3 linked regions of the Homo sapiens genome follow. The protein of the gene in region 1 interacts with the protein of each later gene in a pairwise test. Each region holds a gene or a part of one and is shown on either strand. Other genes may lie near its edges.

Region 1 (7,689 bases):
AATCTGTTTACAGTGCATCACACTCAAAGTCTAAGTTACTTCTTAGTTTGAGTTGAGTCCCAAAAAAGCACCACTCTTTTAAAAAAATAAAGCACTCTTCTGCCATGTGGGGACACAGTGAAAAGACAGCTGTGTGTGGACCAGGAAGCAGACCCTGACCAGACACCAAATCTACCTTGATCTTAGATTTCTCAGCTTCTAGCACTGTGAGAAAATAAATTTCTGTTTATAAGCCAAAAAAAAGTAAATTAAGAAATACAGTGTAAAGTAGTGTGCTTAATAGGCATCTCTGATACAATTGAGGGCTCACCTGCTAACTTTGCTTATAGCAATAGAACTGCCAAAATAACAGACCAGGAAGCTGGACAAGATTTGTTTGGAATTTTAAGATCTAGTTATTTATTTATACAGCATTTCTGGCGTTTGAGTCTCTTATAGCAGCACATCCGGTCTACTTAATAAGAAACACAGAGATTTAAGACATTAACCAATCAACAACTATATCAGAAATTCCTTCTAGCCACAATCATAAACTAAAAAATTTCTATATAAATATGCAAAATATGTGCTCCTTCCATCTTTCTTCATTCTTCTCCCATCCAAACGTAGTATCATGTTTGATTTTATTACTATATTTGTTGCCTAGGATAGAAAACCCCAAACACATTCAATAAAGCAAGGTATTTCTATAATAATAATACTAAAAATGCAAAATGCATTGTTATTTACTACAGCCACCTTTCTGTAACAATGCACTGTACATTTTGAAATTGCTAAAAGAGTAAATTTTAAACGCTTTTACCACAAAAAAAAAGTACATGAGATGATGGATTTGTTAGCTAATCATTTGACAATGCAGACATATGTCAAAACATCACACTGTACCCCACAAATATATATTCTAAGCATTTCCTATATAATAACTTTTGTGGATATGTTACTGAGCATGGGGCACTTAGCTTCCTTTTTCTAGTTCACATAATCTTAGTGGCACTAATAGGAGGTGGGTAATGTTTCATAAAGAAACAATTTACTTTGATTACAGTGGATAAAGATTCTGAACTATGAGCAGTCTATCCTCAACAAAGAATGGTAAAGACAAAAACTACCTTCCTTTGTCTATTATCATTTGCCATCTTCTTTTGCAATTATAAAGAGTTTTGTTTTCACTTGGATGCAGAAGTTGAAAGAGAGACTGAGCAGCCATTCTTAGATTTAAATCCTCCCCCACTCCTAGGGATATAATAATTAATATATAACCTTTGGCGTTTGGCGTTGGGGCTTTTGAGTACTTTTCTTTCTTTCTTTTTCTTTTTTCTTATATAGGGTCTCCACTTTTTCTCTTCCTTTCAGGATATTGACAATTTTTATTCAACGCATTCTCCAAACCTCTTTTCCCCAGCTCAGATCTTCTGTACCAGGGCAGTTAATTACGATTACCTTAGACATTCCACATAACCCTTAAGAGAAGCTTACGAAAAGGGGTTTCTTTAAATCAACCACCAAGAGCACACACACCAGTCCCACTCCCCTTCCCCTCCTCTGGGAGCACCCCCCACCCCAGGCCTTCTAGCTCTACATTGCCAAAACTACACAACTCCCACTCCACCATAGCAAAGCTTTCTCAGGAAAGAGCACCACACAGCATCCCCTTTCCTCTCCCTGGAAACAGCGTTAACCAGGCCGGCAGCCTCAAAGCGCGCTTCCTGGATCCTTTGACCAGGATGCGCCAGGGGCCTGGGCTCCCGCTGGACACTGGCGCGCTCAGACTTTGAATAGGGCGTCAGGCGAAGAATGGCCAAACCCAGGGCAATTTCCGGGGTGGGGGGGGGGGGGCGCTTAGACTGCTGGTAAACTGTACCACGTCCACTCACCACCACCCAAGCCCTCCAACCCACAGCCAGGCCCGCCGCACTTAGGACTTGAAGTTTCAATGCTCCCTGCAAGGTGGGGCCATCCGGGCAGCGGCGAAATACAGGTTTTGGGCGGGGGCAGCCACAGCACCCAACCCTCTTGCAAAGCTGTGCCTCCCGAATTAGGGACAAACTCCCTGGGATTTGTTTTCTGCGGGAGAAAAGGCGGAGGGATGTGGGGGGAGTAAGGTGTGGTGGCGATTCGTGGAGGGCAAGGGTAAGGGGCAGTTACAGCCACATCTCTGCCCTGGACAGAGCCGGGTCCAGGGGCCGCGGGCCTGCCCGCCGCTCGGTTGTCAGCATCTCCTGTAGCCGGCGCGCACACTGCGCGCAAACACGCCCCCCAAAATCCCCACAACCTGTCAAACGGGCCCTACAGCTCGGAGCCTCCTGGCAGGAGGGAGAAACTTGTACCCAGACTCGCCAGCAGCCAGAATGCTGCTGTTTGCCTATGAGAACAATTTTTAAAGCGGAAATAATCATGATAATGAAATAAAAGGATCAAAAGCATCTTGACTTTTTCTGAGCCTTTGGGAAAAATAAAATTGTTGTTTTCTACCAGCCCGCGAATATTCCCAGTCGCCCGTGGCGACGCGGGGGTGGGGTCGGCGCTCAAGGCAGAAAGCGCGAGGCAGGTGCCCAGGAGAGCCGCGCAGAAGGGGACTGACTGGGGGGCCCTGGTCCCCGACGCCATTTGAGGGGCAGCGGCGCCCGCCTTACCTGTGGATGCAGTTTCCATGGCAACGGGCGACTGCCGGGCGGGGCCCGAGCCGGCTTCCCGCGACGCCGCTTCCCGGGCCCTGGCGCCCAACCCCGGGCTGGGCTCCCCAGCCTGCGGCGCCGGCGTGGCCCCTTTCGGCGTCACCGCTTCGTTCTCCCCCTCCCCCCGGTGCCTGAGCCACTGGGACCCGGGGCCGGCCAGCGGCAGCAGCTCGTCCTGCGGATCCCCCGGCGCGGCCATGGCTGGCGGTCCCCCGGCGCGGCGACGGCGGCTTGGCTGGGCAGAGGCTCGGTGGCTGCGCGGGCGCTCCCTGCTGCTGTCCCCGGAGGGACTCGGCGCTCAGGGAAGCTGCGGTGTCTCAGCGTCGCCGCCGCCTCTGCTGCAACTCCGCCGAGCCGCTGCCTGCCGCTCTTCCCGCTTCAGCTCCTCCTTCTCCCCCCTCCTCTTCCTCCGGCCCCGCCGCGGCCGCTGCCTGCGCTCCTCCTCCTACTCCACTCGCTGCTGCCGCCGCTGCTTCGCTATTCCCAATCCTGTTATTACGCAGGTGAAAATGGCCTGCTTGGTCCGGGTCCTCCTGGGCACGTCAGCCCCCAACCTGCAAATGGCAGGCCCCGGTTAGGGGATGTGCCAAATCCACTCGAATCTTCCTCTCGTTTGGGGAGGAAAAAAAAGGAAGAACCAGCAAGTAGCAGCAGCCACCAGCAGCGTCGCCTTCCCAACTGAGAAAGTTAAGCCCCGACTGGTGTCCTGGGTCCCGAGGCAAAGAGGGAAAGCTAGAGAACTCAGGGCCACAGTTCTGAGAGTGACCAGTATGAGTTGTGGAGGGGACACAGGTCTGAACGGGGAAGGGGTGGAGATGGGTTCTGATGGCAGATGGAGACCAGGGAAGCTGCAACCCCGCGGTTAAATCCTGCGTTTCCAGAATGGGCCTGAAAATAGTGGAGTAAAGAAATGAGTTATCAGGACAGCCTCCAAAAAAAGCTTAACAGATCTCACCCTGACCAGCCCTGAGGGCAAACAGGGTGTCAATAGGCAAGGACAAAAGCTGTACATTTGCTTTCAGAAACACTGAGCCAAGGCCATCCTAATCATAAGCTGTCTGTGCAGTCCGTTGTATTTCAGAATTTGGACATTCCATGAAGCTTGCATCTTTTTCTTTACAGTTCACTGTGATAAAATGGAAGATAGTCAGCAAATAAACCCAAACTCAGAGGAGGAAAGTGACTTGCCTTATCATATGTTGTGCCCATACGAAGACCCATCTTTTCAAATGTCTTGTGTTTTATTGGTTCCCAAGTTGTTTATATAATAAAATAATGTGCCTTTAAAAACTAAGATTCACCACAACACACAGGGTGAAGGAATAGGTTTTTCTGCTGTTTCTTCTCTAGGAAAGGTGGGCGCAGACGGTACCGCACACACTGTGAGACTGTGGGACTCTTGGCCACCATGCGCATCTTGAGGATTTCATACCTGTCCATTGGTATATTCAAAGGCCAACTTCAGGACCATTCAGGTGCTCCTCAATAATGCTAAAATGAAAAAGCCCAGAGTCTGCCTAATCTTTTGTTCTGCTAGTGCACTAATGTTCAAAAGATGACAATAAATTAGAGAAAAATCATTCACTAAACAATAAATATGGCCTCCTGAAGCCAGATATCCCTGGAAATCTGATGGTCACCAAAATTTTACATTTTTGACATACTCAAAATTATGTCTCATGATGGAAATATTCACTATCTAGATTGTGGTTATAGCTTCACAGGTGCAAACATATGTCAAAACTTATTGTTTACTGTAAATATGAACAATTTAATGTGTTGTCAGTTATAACTCAATAAATCTATAAAAATAATCTCATCCAAAAACAACAAAATAATTGGTTATCATGAATCATAATGATTTTTAAACATCTTTCCATGGGAAAACAAGAGTGTATTTAAAAAACCGTTAAGTTGAAAAGCTTATTCCACTGCTGTATTTCCATGGAGCTTAATCCTGTCTTGTAATTAGAGGGCACTTGTAAGTTTTTTCAAATCTATTACTTAGTATTCCCTAAAGCATCAGAAATACTAGATGGGAATTTCTCATGGTTTTATTACTGATAACAAGACAAGAACATAGACAATTCTAATGATATAACCTTAAAGTGGTTATTGATGAATACTAATATTTGAGAATTGCTATGCAAAGGAGTTACATACAAAATAATATGAAGTATATTCTTTTGTTTCTCTGAGAAACATGAATGAAAGTCATCATTAAAAAACTGGGAGACCTAAGCAAGCCTCTGTGTTTCCTTATGATTAATAGATAGGAAGTTTGGGGATATGATTCTAATTATTTGTCAATTTCTTTCATACTAATCAATACTCTCATTGAGAATGTGTGAAGGAAATAGCCAGTTAAATCTATTTAGAGTGTAGTTGTTAAAGGAAATTGAACATTATTGACAGTTCCATTTTGATAAAGTATTCTATTTTACACTGCTGAAAAGAGATGAGCACAAGATTTCAGTGTTAGCAATTTTCATTACTAACTTTCCTTATTAGACTCCACCTTTGGATGTATAAAAATTATCTATTTGGGGGAAGAAATTTTCAGGTTTATGCTATGACTTGAAATGATTCATGTTTATTAATATTATTTATTTTGCACCGCTCTGAACTGACAAAGCTTGACTAATTTGAAGATTTATGGGCAAAACACACAGTCGGCAATGGGATTCTGGGGCTTACATAGTTGCTCTAAGTTACGAATTACTCTAAAATGCTTTTCAGACACAGAGAAAATAGGATTGTCACTTTTAAAAGGTTCTTAGCAAGAAGAGTTGAGACAAAAGAACTGTCACGTTTTGTTTTCAGCTTTTGTTTTTTGGAAAAGAAGTTTTGTTCATCATTTGAAAAGAAGAAATGAGGAGCATTTATTTAGCACTAGCTTCTTAACTTAGTCCAAACCATATATCATGGGGAAACACGGTGTGGGGACATGCAGGAAGAGCGCCACAAGTAACAAGCTTTAACCAAGATGAAATTCTTTCCAGCCTCAATATTAAAGTTACCTAACATCTCTACAACCCAGGTTCCTCAACTGTAACCTGGAGATTTTTTTTAAAATTTTTGTGGGTGGGTACATAGTAGGTGTATATATTTATGGGGTATATGAGATATTTTAATACAGGCATACAATGAATAATAATCATATCATGGTAAATAAGGTATCCATCACCTCAAGCTTTTATCCTTTCTTTGTGTTACAAACAATCCGATTATAATCTTTTTGTTGTTTTGAAATATAAAATAAATTATTGTTGACTGTAGGTGCCCCATTGTGCCAGTGAATACTAGATCTTATTCACTCGTATCTAACTATATTTTTATATCTACCATTAACTGTCCCACCTCCATGCCCCTCAGGCCCCTGCCAGCCTCCCAGCACTACACTTCTTGGCCTCTGGGAAACCGTTCTACTCTCTATCTCCATGAATTCAACTGTTTTAATTTTAATTTACCACACATAAGTGAGAACATAAGAAGTTTGTCTTTCTGTGCTTGGCTTATATCACTTAACAGATGTCCTCCAGTTCCATCCATGTTGTGCAAATGACAGGATCTCATTCTTTTTTATGACTGAATAATAGTCCATTGTGTATATGTACCACATTTTCTTTATCCATTTGTCTCTTGATGAACACATGGGTTGCTTCCAAATTTTGGCTAGTGTGAATAATATAGTGCTGTGATAAACGTTGGAGTGCAGATATCTCTTCAATATACTTTTGCTTTCTTTTGGGTATATACCCAACAAACAAACAAAAACAAGAAAACATTGAAACACTGGGGAAACTCTCCAGGATATTGGTTTGGGCAAGCATTTCTAGAGTAATGCCCCATAAGCACAGGCAACCAAAGCAAAAATGGACAAATGGGATCACATCAAGTTAAAAATCTTCTGCACAGCAAAAGAAACAACTAAGTGAAGAGACAACCCACAGAATAAGAGAATAAAATTGCAAATTATCCATCTGACAAGGGATTAATAACCATAATATATAAAAAACTGGGATTGCTGGATCATATGGTAGCTCTAGTTTTTTTAATTGGAGTCAGATGACATCTCATTGTAGTTCTGATTTGCATTTCTCTAATGATCAATGATATTGAGCACCTTTTCATATGTCTGTTTGCTATTTATTTGTATGTCTTCTTTTGAGTAATGTCTATTTAGATATTTTGCCCATTTTTAATTGGATCATTATATTTTTTCTTAATAGAGCTATTTGAGCTCGTTATATATTATGGTTATTAATCCCTTGTCAGATGGATAATTTGCAATTTTTTTCTCTTATTCTGTGGGTTGTCTCTTCACTTAGTTGTTTCTTTTGCTGTGCAGAAGATTTTTAACTTGATGTGATCCCATTTGTCCATTTTTGCTTTGGTTGCCTGTGCTTATGGGGTATTACTCTAGAAATCTTTGCCCAGACCAATATCCTTGAGACTTTCCCCAATGTTTCAATGTTTTCTTGTTTTTGTTTGTTTGTTTGTTTGAGACTGAGTCTTGGTCTGTCACCCAGGGTGGAGTGCAGTGGCGTGATCTTGGCTCACTGCAACCTCCACCTCCCAGGCTCAAGCAAATCTCTTACCTCTGCCTCTCGAGTAGCTGGGATTACAGGTGCCTGCCACCATGCCTGGCTAATTTTTGTGTTTTTAGTAGAGACGAGGTTTCACTATGTTGGCCAGGCTGGTCTTGAACTCCTGACCTCAAGTGATCCGCCCATCTCCGCCTCCCAAAGTGCTGGGATTACAGGTATGAGCCACCACATCTATTTGGCCCCCAGTGTTTTCTTTTAATGGTTTCCTAGCTTGAGGTCTTCAGTATAAGTCTTTCATCTATTTTGATTTGATTTTTGTATACAACAAGAGTTAGGGGTCTAGTTTCATTCTTTTGCATATGAATGTAATGTTGTCCCAGAACTATTTTTATTAAAGAGACTGTCCTTTCCCCAGTGTGTGTTCTTGGCACCTTTTTCAAAAATGAATTCACTGCAGATTAATG
Region 2 (6,869 bases), on another chromosome or scaffold:
TTAGAAGAAACTATAATTAGGGCTCTAGCTCTCATATAACGAAGTAAAATACTGGGTGAATTCAGGGTAATATGTGAAAAAATTAAGAAAAAAATACTAAGAGGAAGCAGAGACTAACATATATAATAATTTGGAGGAATAAGGAAGATATAAAAATTATAACAGAGTTAGAAAATGTAAAAGAAACGGAAAGACCTATCTACCTAAAACACACATGCACACACACTTTTCTCCATGTCAAATATATGTACAAAGTTAAAAGACAAAAAACAGACTGGGGAAAAGAATGCTACATGTGACAGAAAACAACCTTTATATCAGAAAGATGAATTCAGCAACAGATTGCAGCACAGGCAAAGGATTATGAGTATGTAATTTACATCTAAATGTAACTAGCATATAAACATATTTTAAAAGTGCTCAATGTAACTTTAAAGGAATGAAAATAGAAACAGAAAACAGTGAAATGCCTGCTACTTAGTGTTTGTAAGGCAAAATGGGGCCATCATACAATGTTACCAGGACTGTGAATATACATAACATTTCCATGGGGCCAATATGTATCAAAGTTTAAAATGTGCACCACTTCTGGCCCAATAATTCCTCTTTCGGAAATATAAATGAGATCATTTCTCAAAGATGTATGCATATAAATTCATCACAGTGTTCTTTGTAATCTAGATAAATTGGAAACAACCTAAACATCCATCAGTAATAATAAATAAATCTTGGTACCTGGTAAACTAAAATATCATGCATCTATTACAAATGATGTAGAGATCATACAGATATTGACATGCAAAAAACGGTCAAGACATTTTACAGGACAGTTCCATGTGAACAGGGGCCTTGTATGTTTGTTCTTCACTCTTCCAGCAACTAGAACAGTGCCTTGCACAAAACGGCTTTTCAATAAACATTTATTAAACAGATGAACTTTAAAGCAGGTTACAGAACAATAATCATAATATAGTCCTTTTCTCTCTTCCCTCTTCCCCTCCCTCCTTCTCTCTCTCTCACACACACACACAGATTGGAAGGATAGTCACAAAAGGTTAACAAGGTAATGTAGTTTTGGTGTGTGCATATTTTAATTTTCTCCATCTCTCTCTATTGCATAAATTCCTTACACAGTAAGCATTTTTTATTTTTATGACGGTAAAAAGTAACAATTTTTTTAAAGAAAAAGAACTCACATATTTTAAATGAACTCCAGAATGTGCTGTGACTAAGCTCACCAACTCCAAAAACTAAAGTCAACAATATCCAAGTGGCATGTTTTCTTTCACTTTCAAAGAAATATCAGTATAACCTGTACCAGCATCATCTTTCTCAGTACCAGGAAATGCCACACTATACTAATAAAATACAGTGTTTCCAAAAGCAAAGGCACACTTTTTCCGCAGTAAAAAGGAAAAAAAAAAAACCAAAAAACTAAAAGTAACTAATTTCTTAAAGTCTCTTCCACTAACATACACTCTATTCTAGTTCATGGTAACGATTACTATATACAATTGCTCTTTTCTCCCCCCAGACTAAAAATCCAAGTGAATCGATATCAGTAATGTGCTCTATATAATTTTTTCATTTCTTTACAGAGGCAGATTTCACCTTAAACAGTGGATATACCAAACTAGCCACATAACCCATGTCTCTATTCACGCCATCACCCAGTTCTATTTTACTTACACGCTTCGTCACAATCTCATAACCTTATTTAGATTTTATCTGCTCCTTCCTTCTAGAATGTAAGACTCATGAGGACAGGAATTCTGTCCTGCTCACCACCATGTCCCCTGGCCAATAACAGTGAATGGTATCTAGTAGGCCTCAAGAAGTATTTGTTAAACAAAAATGAAAAGATGTGGCCGGCACGGGGAGAGTACAAATCTACATAAAACAATAAAACGAGGAACTGAAAAAAGGAAAGAAAACCACGCTGAGATGTACAAGCTGACAGGACTCAAAGCTATCATGCCAGCTCGGAGGTTTGGTGGACATTTTTCAGGGTGGACAGGTGCTTCACACCTATCTAAGCGCATAGAGCCCTTCCAGGAAGAAGAAAATCCACAGAGAGGTGTCCAGATAGCTGTGAGCAGCTCCCAGAAAAGTGGACACAATCACCACCCTAACAGAAACGTGGCCCAGGTCGGGAGAAAAAAACAATACACCATACATCTCGGCCCAGATGAAAAATTACACGAATCCCCAGCACAATCAAACCAAGCCACCACCTTCAGCCTGACACGTAAGAGCAGTCTCCTTTAGCCTGGCTGGGCAGTCGCCTGCAACCCAGCAAACCCTTCCCACGCCCAACACTTTTCCCTCGCAAAGACCACCGCCACCGCCGGTCCGAGGGGCGAGGGAACGGGGGGAACAGCCTGACGATCAGCTTTCTCCACCCCCGCCCGAGCCCAGTCCCCTTCAAAGCGCAAACGTTTCCCATTCTCGCCTGTCTCCGAGGCCCGGACCCCTGCCCCGAGCCCCTCCTGCGGTCCCTCACTCACGTGTAGATGATAGCCATGAAATGCATCAGCCACAGCACCAAGAAGAGGACGAACCCGAAGACGGCCATTCCCTCCAAGGCCAGGTCCAGCAGCGCCATCCCCCGGCCCGCCGGACCGGCCCGGCCCGCTGCGGCCGCCAACACGGACAACGCTCCCGCAGGAGGAGGACAGGGTGGGCGCCCGGTGCGGGGGCGCGGGAGGCGAGAGGAAGGTGGGGAGAGGAAAGGGCGGAGGGGGGTGGGGACGGAAGGGGCGGGCAGGGCCTGCGCGCCCCCGCCCGCGCGCTCTCGCCTGCGCGCTGTCTTCGGCGCGCTCGCGGGCGGCTGCGGGTGCTGCGGTCTCCCGGCTCTGGTCGGGGCGACCGCGGTCCCGCGCTCCGGTTCGCCTCTCCCGAGCCTCGCGGCCGCCCACCAGACCCTGCGCGCGGGCACCTCCGCCGCCTCTCCGTCTCGCCGCCGGGCTCCCGGCCGAGCAGCTCCACCGCCGCAGCTCCGCGCACTAATCAAAACCGGCGGCTCGCGCCCCACTCCTCGGCGCGTCCCGCCCCCGGAACCGCGGCGCCCGCCTCTCCCAGGGGCGGTGCCCCCATCGGTCCACGCCCACCCTGTCGCCCGCGCGCCCGCTGCGGCGCCGGCGAGAGCGCGCCGGGGAGATCGTGTCCTGCTGCCCGCAGGACGCAGGCCGGGCTTCCTCCGGCTCCTCGCTCCCGCTGCCGCCCACCTAGGCGGAAAGCGCTGCAGCCCTGGGCCGGGCTCCCTCGGTGTCGGTGGCAGCTCGGGACCCTGTGCCTGGCTGGAGGCTGCTCTCTCTCCGTCTGGCCCTGCTGTTCCTGGGTGCCCCAGAAAAAGACACGGGTTCCGGGCAGCTGCCGGAGCTTGTCTAGAAATCCAACTTCCAACGCCGCGTCTGCAGCCTCCCCGCCGGGCACTGCTACTGCTCGGAGCAGCCAGGCCCTCCAGGCCACGTTCCTGGGCGCAAGGGATGCCCATTGCCTTCCCTCTTACTGCTTTTAATGCTGTGGGATCTTGGATCAAAAGGGACCGGAGAGTAAAATAATCTCCATGCGCCTCACAGATCTCTAAGCGCCTTAGCGACCGTGTGTATTATAAAAAGAAATTCTCAAATTCAGAATTAAAGAATCAGTTGATATTGAAATTCCCTAAGACTGCCATCCAATACGGTAGCCGCATGTGGCTAAGTGAGGGTTGGAAAGGCAGCTTGCCACTCTGTGGAGTAAACAGTACACCAGATGTGGAAGACCATCTCGTTAGTAAATTTTATATTGATTGCATGTTGAAAAGGTAATATTTTGGACATACTACATTAAATTAGGTAAATTATTAAGTTAATTTCTCTTTTTAAATACTTTGGCTAGCTACTAGAAAATTTTAATTGTACGTGTGGACAGCACAGCTCTAAAATGGGAAGAAATGTCACTTTGGGTAGTAAGGTAACTAAGTATTTGTCCTAATTTTAAGTCATCCCAAGAAGATGCTAGTACTCAATGTTTGTGTTTCTTCAATCTAGATGAGTTTATACTATTTCTGCATTGTTTTATGTTTATTGTTGCAAGTGATTTCCTTTTAAATAATCCATGACCTCCCTTGAGATATTTCAGAATTGAATTCAATTTTGAAAAGAAGTTGTGGCTGGGCGCGGTGGCTCACACCTGTAGTCCCAGCACTTTGGGAGGCGGAGGCAGGTGGAGCATGAGGTCAGGAGTTCAAGACCGGCCTGGCCTAGATGGTGAAACCCCGTCTCTACTAAAAATACAAAGAATTAGCCGGGCGTGGTGGCAGGCGCCTGTAATCCCAGCTACTCCGGAGGCTGAGGCAGAGAATTGCTTAAACCTGGAGGGGCGGAGGTTGCAGTGAGCCGAGATCGCGCCACTGCACTCCAGCCTGGGCGACAGAGCGAGACTCTGTCTCGAAAAAAAATAGATGAATTTAAAAAAAAGAAAAGAAGTTGTTTATTATTGCTGTTTATGGTAGTTAATAGTCACTGAATGATCTACCTCAATCTGCAATTAAATGACAAACTACAACTAGAAGAGTTAATGTCCGAACCATTCCTCGATTAACATCCTTGGCTCCACTGGTGCAGAATCAGTGGGAAAGAACAATGCTTCAAAATCAAATTCCCACTGTTGAGAGTTACTGGCTGATAAAAATAGCAGGATGGAGGGCCAGGCGCAGTGGCTCATGCCTGTAATCCCAGCAGTTTGGGAGACTCAGGTAGGAGGATTGCTTGAGGCCAGGAGTTTGAGACCAGCCTGGGCAACATGATGAAACCCTGTCTCTACAAAAAAAAAAAAAAAAAAAAATTAGCCAGGCATGGTTATGGCACCTATAGTCCCAGCTACCGGGAAGGCTGAGGTGGTAGGATCACCTGATCCTGGGAAGTGGCGGCTGCAGTGAGCTGTGATCGCGCCACTTAACTCCAGCCTGGGTGACAGTGAGTCCCTGTCTTAAAAAAAAGTGGAATAGAATTCTAACATCGAAATAACGTTCCAAACAAAAATTTACGATTGTAGTTAATTCTAAGGCACACTTCAAAAAAACACTTTAACAAATTTTAATTTCTCTGAAATGGGAATGCATCTCACAGTCAATGCCATCTTAGAGTTAATTGGCGTTTTTTCTTTTTTTTTTTTTTTTTTTTGAGGTGGAGTCTCGCTCTGTCGCCAAGGCTGGAGTGCAGTGGCGTGATCTAGGCTCACAGGAACCTCCGCCTCCTGAGTTCAAGCAATTCTCCTGTCTCACCCTCCCCAGTAGCTGGGACTACATTTGCACACCACCACACCCGGCTAATTTTTGTGTTTTTAGTAGAGACGGGGTTTCACCATATTGTTCAGGCTAGTCTCGAACTCCTGACCTCGTGATCCACCTGCCTCGGCCTCCCAAAGTGCTGGGATTACAGGCGTGAGTCACCGTGCCCAGCCAATGGCTTGTGGTTTTCTTTTACTCAAATATAAAATAATAGTGCATCTTAGTGATATATAAAATAATGCTGCATCTTATCATTAAATGCCCTCTTAGATTTGAGGAACACCAATTGCTTAATTTAAGCATTGTTTTATATTCTGCATTTTTTCAAAAATGTTTTCTGGAACCTTACAACAAAGGATTTTATACAGTATGACCAATAACACAAAAAAAGAGGCCAAAGAAATGTGAAAGTAGATATTCTTAAGAGTTAACAAATTTGCTAAATTGAGTATAATCAGTAGATTAAAGATCAGTTATATTATACTTGACCCTAGTTAAACTATGTTTACCCAAACTTCGTTTTAAAACAGCTTTAGAAAAGGGAAGAGTATGAAGACAGTATAAAGATCTGTGGTTGCCATGGAGCAGAGGAAAGAGGGACAAATAGATGACAGGATTTTTAGGGCTGTGAGTGAAACTATTCTGTATGATCCTATAATAGTGTATACATGTCATATATTTGGCAAACCCCGTAGAAAATACACCACCAAGAGTGAACCCTAATGTAAGCTATGGACTTTAGGTGATAATGGTGTGTTAATGTAGGTCCATCAGTTGTAACGAATATGGTGCTCTGGTGCAAGATGTTAATAGTGGAGGAGGCTGGTGGAGGGAATGGCAGTGGGTATATGGGAACCTTCTGTACTTTCTGCTCAGTTTTGCTGTGAACCTAAAACTACTCTAAAAAGTAAATTCTTAAAAAAAATTAGTGAGTGTTCCACTAAAGGTGTTCTACTTATATATGTATACAAATATGTGTATAACATTGGAAATGCTATAAATGTCTGAATAAGATATACCAGTTTGCGGCTGGGCGCGGTGGCTCAGGCCTGTAATTGCAGCACTGTGGGAGGCCAAGGTGGGAGGATCTCAAGCCAGCCTGGGCAACATGGCGAAACCCTGTTTCTACAAAAAATAGAAAAATTAGCTGGGCGTGGTGGCAGGCAACGTGGTAAAACCCTGTTTCTACAAAAAATACAAAATCTAGCCAGGCATGGTGGTGGGTACCTGTAATTCCAGCTACTTGGGAGGCTGAGGCAGGAGAATCACTTGAACCTGGTAGGCAGAGGTTGCAGTGAGCCAAGATCATGCCACTGCACTCCAGCTTGGGTGCCAGAGCGAGACTCTGACTTAAAAAAAAAAAAATTACCAGTTTGCCATCAGATCCCAGGATTTAGCACCTTGTGGGCACTTAAATATTTGTTGACTGAATGAATAGATAAAATGTTTATTTATCCATTGACAGAAGTCACTGGAAAAATTTCAGTGACTTCTGAAATTTTCTGGAAAAACTTTCTGGAAAAATTTCTCAGCTTTCTCCTTTGTCTGTAAAGATTTTTAAATGGTTTTTCGTTGTGAGAAAAATACACATTAA
Region 3 (7,024 bases), on another chromosome or scaffold:
TGTTTCTGGATCTACCATCAAATCGGCCACCCCACCTCAGTCAGGCCACCTACCCTTTGCTGTAGGTTGTGGTTGAATTGTGTCCCCAAAATAGACATACTGAAGTCCTAACCCCAGTACCTATCACTGTGGCTATACTTGGAAATAGGGTCTTTGCAGGTAAAATCAAGTTAAGATGAGGTCATATTGGATTAGAGCGGGCCCTAAAGCTAACGGCTGATGTTATTAAAAGAAGAAGGAAATTTGGACATAGACGCAGAGATACAATCGGGAGAGTGCTGAGTGAGGATGGAGGCAGAGACTGGAGTGATGTGTCTACTAGCTAAGGTGAACCAAGTGTGGCCAGCAGCCACCAGAAGCTGGAAGAGGCAGGCAGCATTCTCCCCTAGCACCTTCAGAGGGAGCACGGCCCTGCCCACACCTTGATTTCGGACTTTTAGCTTCCAGAACTAAAAGGGAATAAATATCTGTTGCTTTAAGCCACCCATTTTGTGATACTTGTGACAACCGCCCTCAAAGTACGGCATTATGCAAGCTTGACGCCCAGCAGCTTCTAATCTTGCAATTTCCTTTTGAGGGAATCTTGAAAGAAAATCTATGTAAAGAGCCCAATACAGGAAAACAGCCTCCCACTCAATAAGTATCGGACACCCCCTACATGCCTTTCAAAGGCATTCTACTTCTATGGGGGAAGTTGAGGGCACGGTGACCTACAGATGCCACCTCTTTGTCCTTCCCCCAGTGCGAGGGAGCCGCCTCATCTCCACCCAGGTCCCGCCTGGTCATCTGCCCCTGCAGGGGTGCACCCCGGCTGAGAGGCCCCTCTGAAAGGTTCCCACTCTTGGGCTGCATCTCCGGACGAGGCCGCCACAAACAGCCAGTGGTTTGCATTGTGCAATCAGTCATAACTGGCAAAGGACTGGCGGAGGTTGCTACAGACACTCAAATCCAGCTGCGAGTGAGCTGGCTCACCATGTGCTCAGATGAACTTGCTGGACAAAGTCCTGACCTTCCCCGGCTGTGGGACACGTCTCTTCTTATTGTGACAAGCAGAGAGCCCCTCTTGGAGGAATGTCCTGGCCCCAGCCTATGGAGGGCCCTTGCCAAGCCATCCCTGGTCCCTCTATCCCCAAAGCCCCCAGACCAGCAGCCTATTGATTCCTGCAGTCCCAGAGAAGGATCCCTCATCTTTGCAGCCTCAGATCACCAGTCAGCACCCAATATATGTTCATAAACAGATAGATTAAATCATTAATTCTATAGTTTCTGATCGTGTGCCTTGCCTTTTTCAAGCCTAACTCAATGTTGCAGAAAACGTCTGAGAGTTTCTAAGAAATAACAAACACGAACCCCCACTGTTTTCCCTGTACCTTGAGGAGAGTGGTCTTTGTTGGGTCCAATTTTGAGTTGCACTCCACCTGCACAAGAGGGAGGAAATCTGTTAATTTTCTACGTGAAGCCAAAGCCAAAACATCTCCCCCTTCTCCGCCACTCTGCCACCGTCACCAGAAACTCCAGTATTTCTGCTGGCAAAGAAGAAAGTATGTGGAGTTATTGGGATTCAGCAGATGTGGCTTGAAATCCCAGCCTTGCCATTACCAGCTGTGACAACTTGGATAAGTGATTTAACTTCTTTGGGCCTCAGTTTCCTCATCAATAAAATGGAGCTAATATCTTTTTTCAAAAGGTTATTATGAAGATTAGCCGAAATGTAAACAGTACTGTAGAAATACCTGCTAAATAAATATCCTTGTTTAACCAGCAGCTGCCAGAGATTCTACAGGTTTAATATTCCCAGATCTAACAACTATTCTTCATGTAAAATCACACTGGTTTCTCTCTTCATTTTGTCAGTGAACCTCTTGAAAGGGGCATCTGGAATTGGGCAGAATACCCATATGTAACCCAGGATGTTCAAAATGCTTAAAGTAAAACTATCACCTCCCTTGATTTGAACAGTGTATCTCTATTGATGTATCCCATGATTATCTCCAGTCAGTCAGCCCGTAAGAAACTCATGGTTCACTAAGGCATGCCAGGTATTTACTACATGAACATTTGCAAATGTCACTCTGCAGATCACTGCACAAAGCATGGCAGTACTGCAGGACTCTGATCCATAGCCCCTAAGTCTTCCATCTCCCCAGCTGTGGGGTTGTTTGAAAGGCAGATTCCTCTCTTTGCTGCCACAAAGTTGCAGGTGGGAGTTAAGGGGTGAAAGGAGTCAGGAAGCTTTGCTAAGCCCTGCCTCCCAGTGCCTCTCTCCCCTGCCAGCTCATCAGGCACCAGTCAGTTTGGAAAGATCCAGCTGCTTCCCAAATAAGAGGTGAGTCTCTTGGCCAGGAAGCCAAGTGGCAAACATGCCCATATAAACAAGCCGATGGGACACAGACTGGCGGGTGAGGGGACCTGGGAGAGGAGACACTGCCAAGCAACCAGGGCTGGCAGCCACCAGGGAAAGAGACTGAGTGGCTGGGCCCTCTGCCCAAAGGCCAATATGGCATTTCAAAAAACATCACCTGCCCTGATGGGGCAGAGGAGAGGAGGGGCAGGCAGGGCCACTTCAACAAAGTCAACCAGACTTTGCCTGTTGAATTAAACACAGAAATCAGCTGTGATTTCTACATACCACGGCATCCACTGCAGGCGAGCTGTCCCCAACCACCAACAGAGCAGGGCACCTGGGGTCAGGGATAGAGCAGAGAATTAGCACAAGGTTCCTTTAAAGATTGTCCCACTCCCAGGCCTGCCAGGCTGGGGCCTGCATTCTACAAACAATGTCATTTTGGTTTCCCCAACACCCTTTGCTCTTTTACTTCATTCTCCTTTGATCTTAGGATAACATTGGTTACTAGTCATTCACAACTTAGTATGAATTTCAGCCAGGGAATTTCTGTGACTCAGTGCTTTTGTTTTAAAGCATCTTCTCCTCAAGGATGGTTAAGCAGGACTTAGCTGGCAATCAAGACCGAAACAAGAACAGCATGAAGGACAAAGGCAATGACGTGCCAGGTTCCCAAGTGTCACACAACGCGGTGCACTCAGCCACAAAAAGACACCATCATTACTGGTGGAAACCCAGTTAGTTCTGTCCATGACTGTCTTTTCCTCCTAGGTGTATGGAGCACTTTAAGGCTGGGTCCTGTGCTATCCATCCCTAGGCTTCATGGAGCAAAGCCTCACACAGTTATTGATGTAGTAGGTGCTTAATAAATGCTGTCCCAAGTACAATCAACCATCCTTCTCCAAGATCAAAGGCCTAGGTCATGGGGACACCCTAGAAACGGATGCCACCGGCACAGGGAGAAGTCCAAGTCAGGCTGGGTAATGCTCAGTCTCTGGGTGGAATATATCCAGGTCTCACTGACACAATGTCCTGCCACACTCAGAAAGAAGGCCCTGCCAGCAAGGCCACCTTTATAGTGGGCAGCCCCGACTGCAAGTGCTGGGGGAGAGAAAAGCCACTCACTGCAGGGTGACTGTGTGGGTTCCCGGCATTGGTCGCTCAATCTCCAGGTCGCGCCGGCTGCAGGAAACAAATGCATCATTAGCATGAGGACCCCTCCCCTGGAGAAATCTCCCACTCCCATCCAGCCAAGCCCAGGAGGTCCTGCCAGTGGCCATTCTGGTAAGCTACCCACATCCCCAACTTGAGAGAGGCCCTGTGGCTTTCAGGACTCCACACCCTCTTGGTGTCCACAGACCTGGTTAGAGGGACAGCACAACACATGCATTTCAAGCAGAGCCCCCTCATTTTGTCACAAATATTTGTGGGGCTTTTTTTTCCAGGAGTAGAAGTCAGATTCTCCACCATAGAGGGTCCCCGCCTTCCCTGTCCCCCTAGTCAGAGCCCCCACCTGACAGAGGGGCCACCTCCCAAATGCTCTCGCAGCCTCTTAGTTTAAGTCCCAGCCTCACCAACTCTGAGTCCTCTATAAAGCACCCAAATGATCTCTTTAAAACTCAGGCCTCATCTTTCCATTCCCTGTCTCAAACCCTGTGGTGGTTTCCCACTGCACTCGTGTGAGGCCCAGTGTGGGTCCAGCCCAGTGCCGACCACCTTTCCTGCACGCAGCCACCCACCCTCTCTGCTATCTTGCAGCTCCCAACATGAGAAGCTCTTTCCCAGCTCACAGCCTGGAGTTAGACAAGCAGGATCCAAATCATGCTCTGCCACTTTCTAGCTGTGTGGCCTTGGGGAGAACACAGGATCTCTTTGCGCCTTTGCTTCCTCAACAGGAAATGACAGTAATTCCAGGACCTTCACAGTGGGATTTGGAGAGGGGTCAGTTAATTACGGTGCTATCTACACGGGCAAGTTAACAGTGTGGAGTCTGCGGGCTGTGCTGGTTTCCTCTGTGTCTCCAGCGCCCAGCCGAATGCCTGACTCGCTCCAGTTCTCAGAAAGTGTTTACTAAGTGAACCGCACTGCCAGGTTTCGGTTTCTTCAGTCACATCCACAGTGAGGATGTTACCACTGAGATGAGGGCAGGATTGTAAAAGGAGGCAGATACTAAGCTCTGTTACAAATGTTAATTTCAAGAAGTCACTTTATTAACATTTGAGCAGAGATAAACACTATGAGGCTCATTTCTATCTCCTGTTCTGCGAGCGTGGCAGAGCGAGCTCAGCAGGTTGAGCGAGCTCCCTGGAAGATTACAGAGTCTCTGGCTGACACCAATGGCCCTGAGCTGTCTCCTCCCCTAGCTGAGCTCCAGATAAGCACCTAGTGCTGGTTGAGAGGGCCACGCCTTAGGCAAAGGCCATGTTCAGGTCCTCCTTATCCTTGGAATGACAAACTCCCAGAAGCCTGCCTGGATTATCCCCGGCCTCCAGGAGTGCTTTGCTGCTCTCTCACTTAGCTCTTCTTACATTTGGCCTTTCGTGAAGGTCAGCAGCGGGCACACATATTTACTCTCAACCCTCTGAGTGTGCGACTGCGTCCCTCTCACGTCTGCACCCCCAGTGGTCTGGAGTGTTTGTTCAGATCCCTGCAAGGCGAGCTGAATGCCAGGAACCAGCTTACAGGCCAGGTGTCCTTCCTGGGGACACCTGTCCTATTAATCTATTTGCTCAAACTCAGAGCCTGCCTCTTCCGCTCATTTTATACTCTCCCTCTCATCTGTCCCACATTTCGGATCTACAGAAGACACCTCATAAATAGCAATGATGTGGCTGAACTACATCCCAATACCTGTTGTAGGCATTGATGAACAGGTGCAGGTTGCCGGGGTTCATGTCATTCACAATGTGCTGGCGGTAGGTGTGGACCACTTCCACGTTACTCTGCATTTCTTCCTGCATTTAGAGAGGTGAGAAGATGGTCCTCATCGCACTGTGGCCCTGAGCTGGTCACTACTCTCTCCATTCTCCAGGTTATTTGGAGACAAAGTAAAGATAATAATGCCTAATCCACAAGACAGCGACGGACCTAAAAAAAAAACCTTTGGGAAAGCAACACGCCCAACCAGGTGCAGACAGGGGTTTCACTATCCGCTGGGAGCAGAAAAGACCCCCATCCTGGAAAGGCCACACCCCACCCTTCCAAACTCATTACTTTGGGAGTTTCAATTTGAAGTCAGACATCCTGGATCTAGAGCTTAGCTTCATCACTGTCCCTTTCGTAGGCAAATCTTTCAACCTCTCTGAGCCTCAGATCTCTTAAAAAAAAAAAAAAAAAAAAGGGAAGAGAGAGAATGTTGCCTACTTCACTAGGTTGTAGGACTTAATGGAGGTTGTGTTCTCACCTCTACTAACAGTAAAAATTGGAGGCAAATGTTAGTAATTGTTTTCCAATGGGAAGAGCTGAAAAGAAGTTTTTCATGCTTGAAAAGCAAAATCAACTCATGCCACAGGAAGTTACTGAAAAGAAGGGCAATTGCAACTCCCACCACGGCCAACCAGAGCCTTGGGGAAGTCGGCCTCAGCCTCCCCGTCTCTGGGTGCTTTTTGAATGTTATTTGCGACAAACAACTTGTTTGCTCTGTTTCTCATTTGTACGAGGGCAGACACTGTAGGTTTCACACAAGGGTCTGATATGACCAGTGGCAACCAGATGAGAAGTTGGAGTTGGGGGTCAAAGAAAGCCGGTGTCAAGCTTGAGCTGCATCAAACAGTCCAGGATCATTTAGGCAGCAAGGAGGTCAACTGGCTACTAAGAGCAAACTCTGGAAAAAATAGTCAGGAATCACGCTGGGATTTCAGATCAAAACCAACTATAGCGATCTGGGGGTACCCTCAGACACCATGGCCGGACCAACCAGTCTCCAAATAACTTGGGGTATAATCAGATCAGATGCTCAACGCTATGTCTGACATCCCTCCTCCAGTGAAACAGAGACAGTGGCTGTGAATTTTTCCCAATTCCTATCAGTTTCAGATTACACACTCAGGACAGGGAAAATGTGTCACACGCTGTGGAATGAATCGTAAAAGGGGAAAGAGGACTCTAGTGGGCTAAACTGTGGCCCTCAAAAGATATGTCCATGTCAAATCTCTTGAACTTGGGAATGCAAACTTGCTGGGAAAAAGGGTTTTTGCAGGTGTAATTAATTAAGGATCTTGAGATGAGATAATCCTGGATTACATGAGCCGGGATGAAATCCAATGGAAAGTATCCTTAAAAGAGGAAGGAGAGGGAGAAATAAAACAGACACAGAGGAGAAGACCATGTGAAGACAGAGGCAGAGAGTGGTGTGAGCAGCCACTAGCCAAGGAATGCCGACAGCGACCTGGAGCAGTAAGAAGCAAGGACGAATTTCCCCTGGAGCCTGTGGCGGAGGGGCGGCCCTGCCAGCGCTTGACATCGGAGTTCTAGACTCAGAGCTGTGAGAGAATACACTTTTGTTTTCCTTTTTCTCTGTTTTTGAGACAGAGTCTCCCTCTGTCTCACCCAGGCTGCAGTGCATGGCGCGATCTCGGCTCACTGCAGCCTCTGCCTCCCAGGTTCAAGTGATTCTCCTGTCTCAGCCTCCCGAGTAGCTGGGATTACAGGCGCGTGCCACCACATCCGGTTAATTTTGTA

Evidence for each region. Proteins that work in one complex are often made in the same cells at the same time.
Region 2: the proteins of RTN1 (region 1) and UGCG interact in a two-hybrid assay, tested with the Homo sapiens proteins (2 studies listed by BioGRID and IntAct).
Region 3: the proteins of RTN1 (region 1) and NDRG1 interact in a two-hybrid assay, tested with the Homo sapiens proteins (one study listed by BioGRID).

What each region holds. Positions count from the first base shown.
Region 1 is NC_000014.9:59,867,757-59,875,445, forward strand, and holds the start of RTN1 (reticulon-1), read right to left. Parts: upstream 3,021-7,689; 5' UTR 2,875-3,020; coding exon 2,634-2,874; intron 1-2,633. UniProt on the Homo sapiens protein: Inhibits amyloid precursor protein processing, probably by blocking BACE1 activity.
Region 2 is NC_000009.12:111,892,952-111,899,820, reverse strand, and holds the start of UGCG (ceramide glucosyltransferase), read right to left. Parts: upstream 3,008-6,869; 5' UTR 2,606-3,007; coding exon 2,508-2,605; intron 1-2,507. UniProt on the Homo sapiens protein: Participates in the initial step of the glucosylceramide-based glycosphingolipid/GSL synthetic pathway at the cytosolic surface of the Golgi.
Region 3 is NC_000008.11:133,245,246-133,252,269, forward strand, and holds part of NDRG1 (protein NDRG1), read right to left. Parts: intron 5,299-7,024; coding exon 5,195-5,298; intron 3,527-5,194; coding exon 3,470-3,526; intron 2,682-3,469; coding exon 2,630-2,681; intron 1,419-2,629; coding exon 1,371-1,418; intron 1-1,370. UniProt on the Homo sapiens protein: Stress-responsive protein involved in hormone responses, cell growth, and differentiation. Acts as a tumor suppressor in many cell types. Necessary but not sufficient for p53/TP53-mediated caspase activation and apoptosis.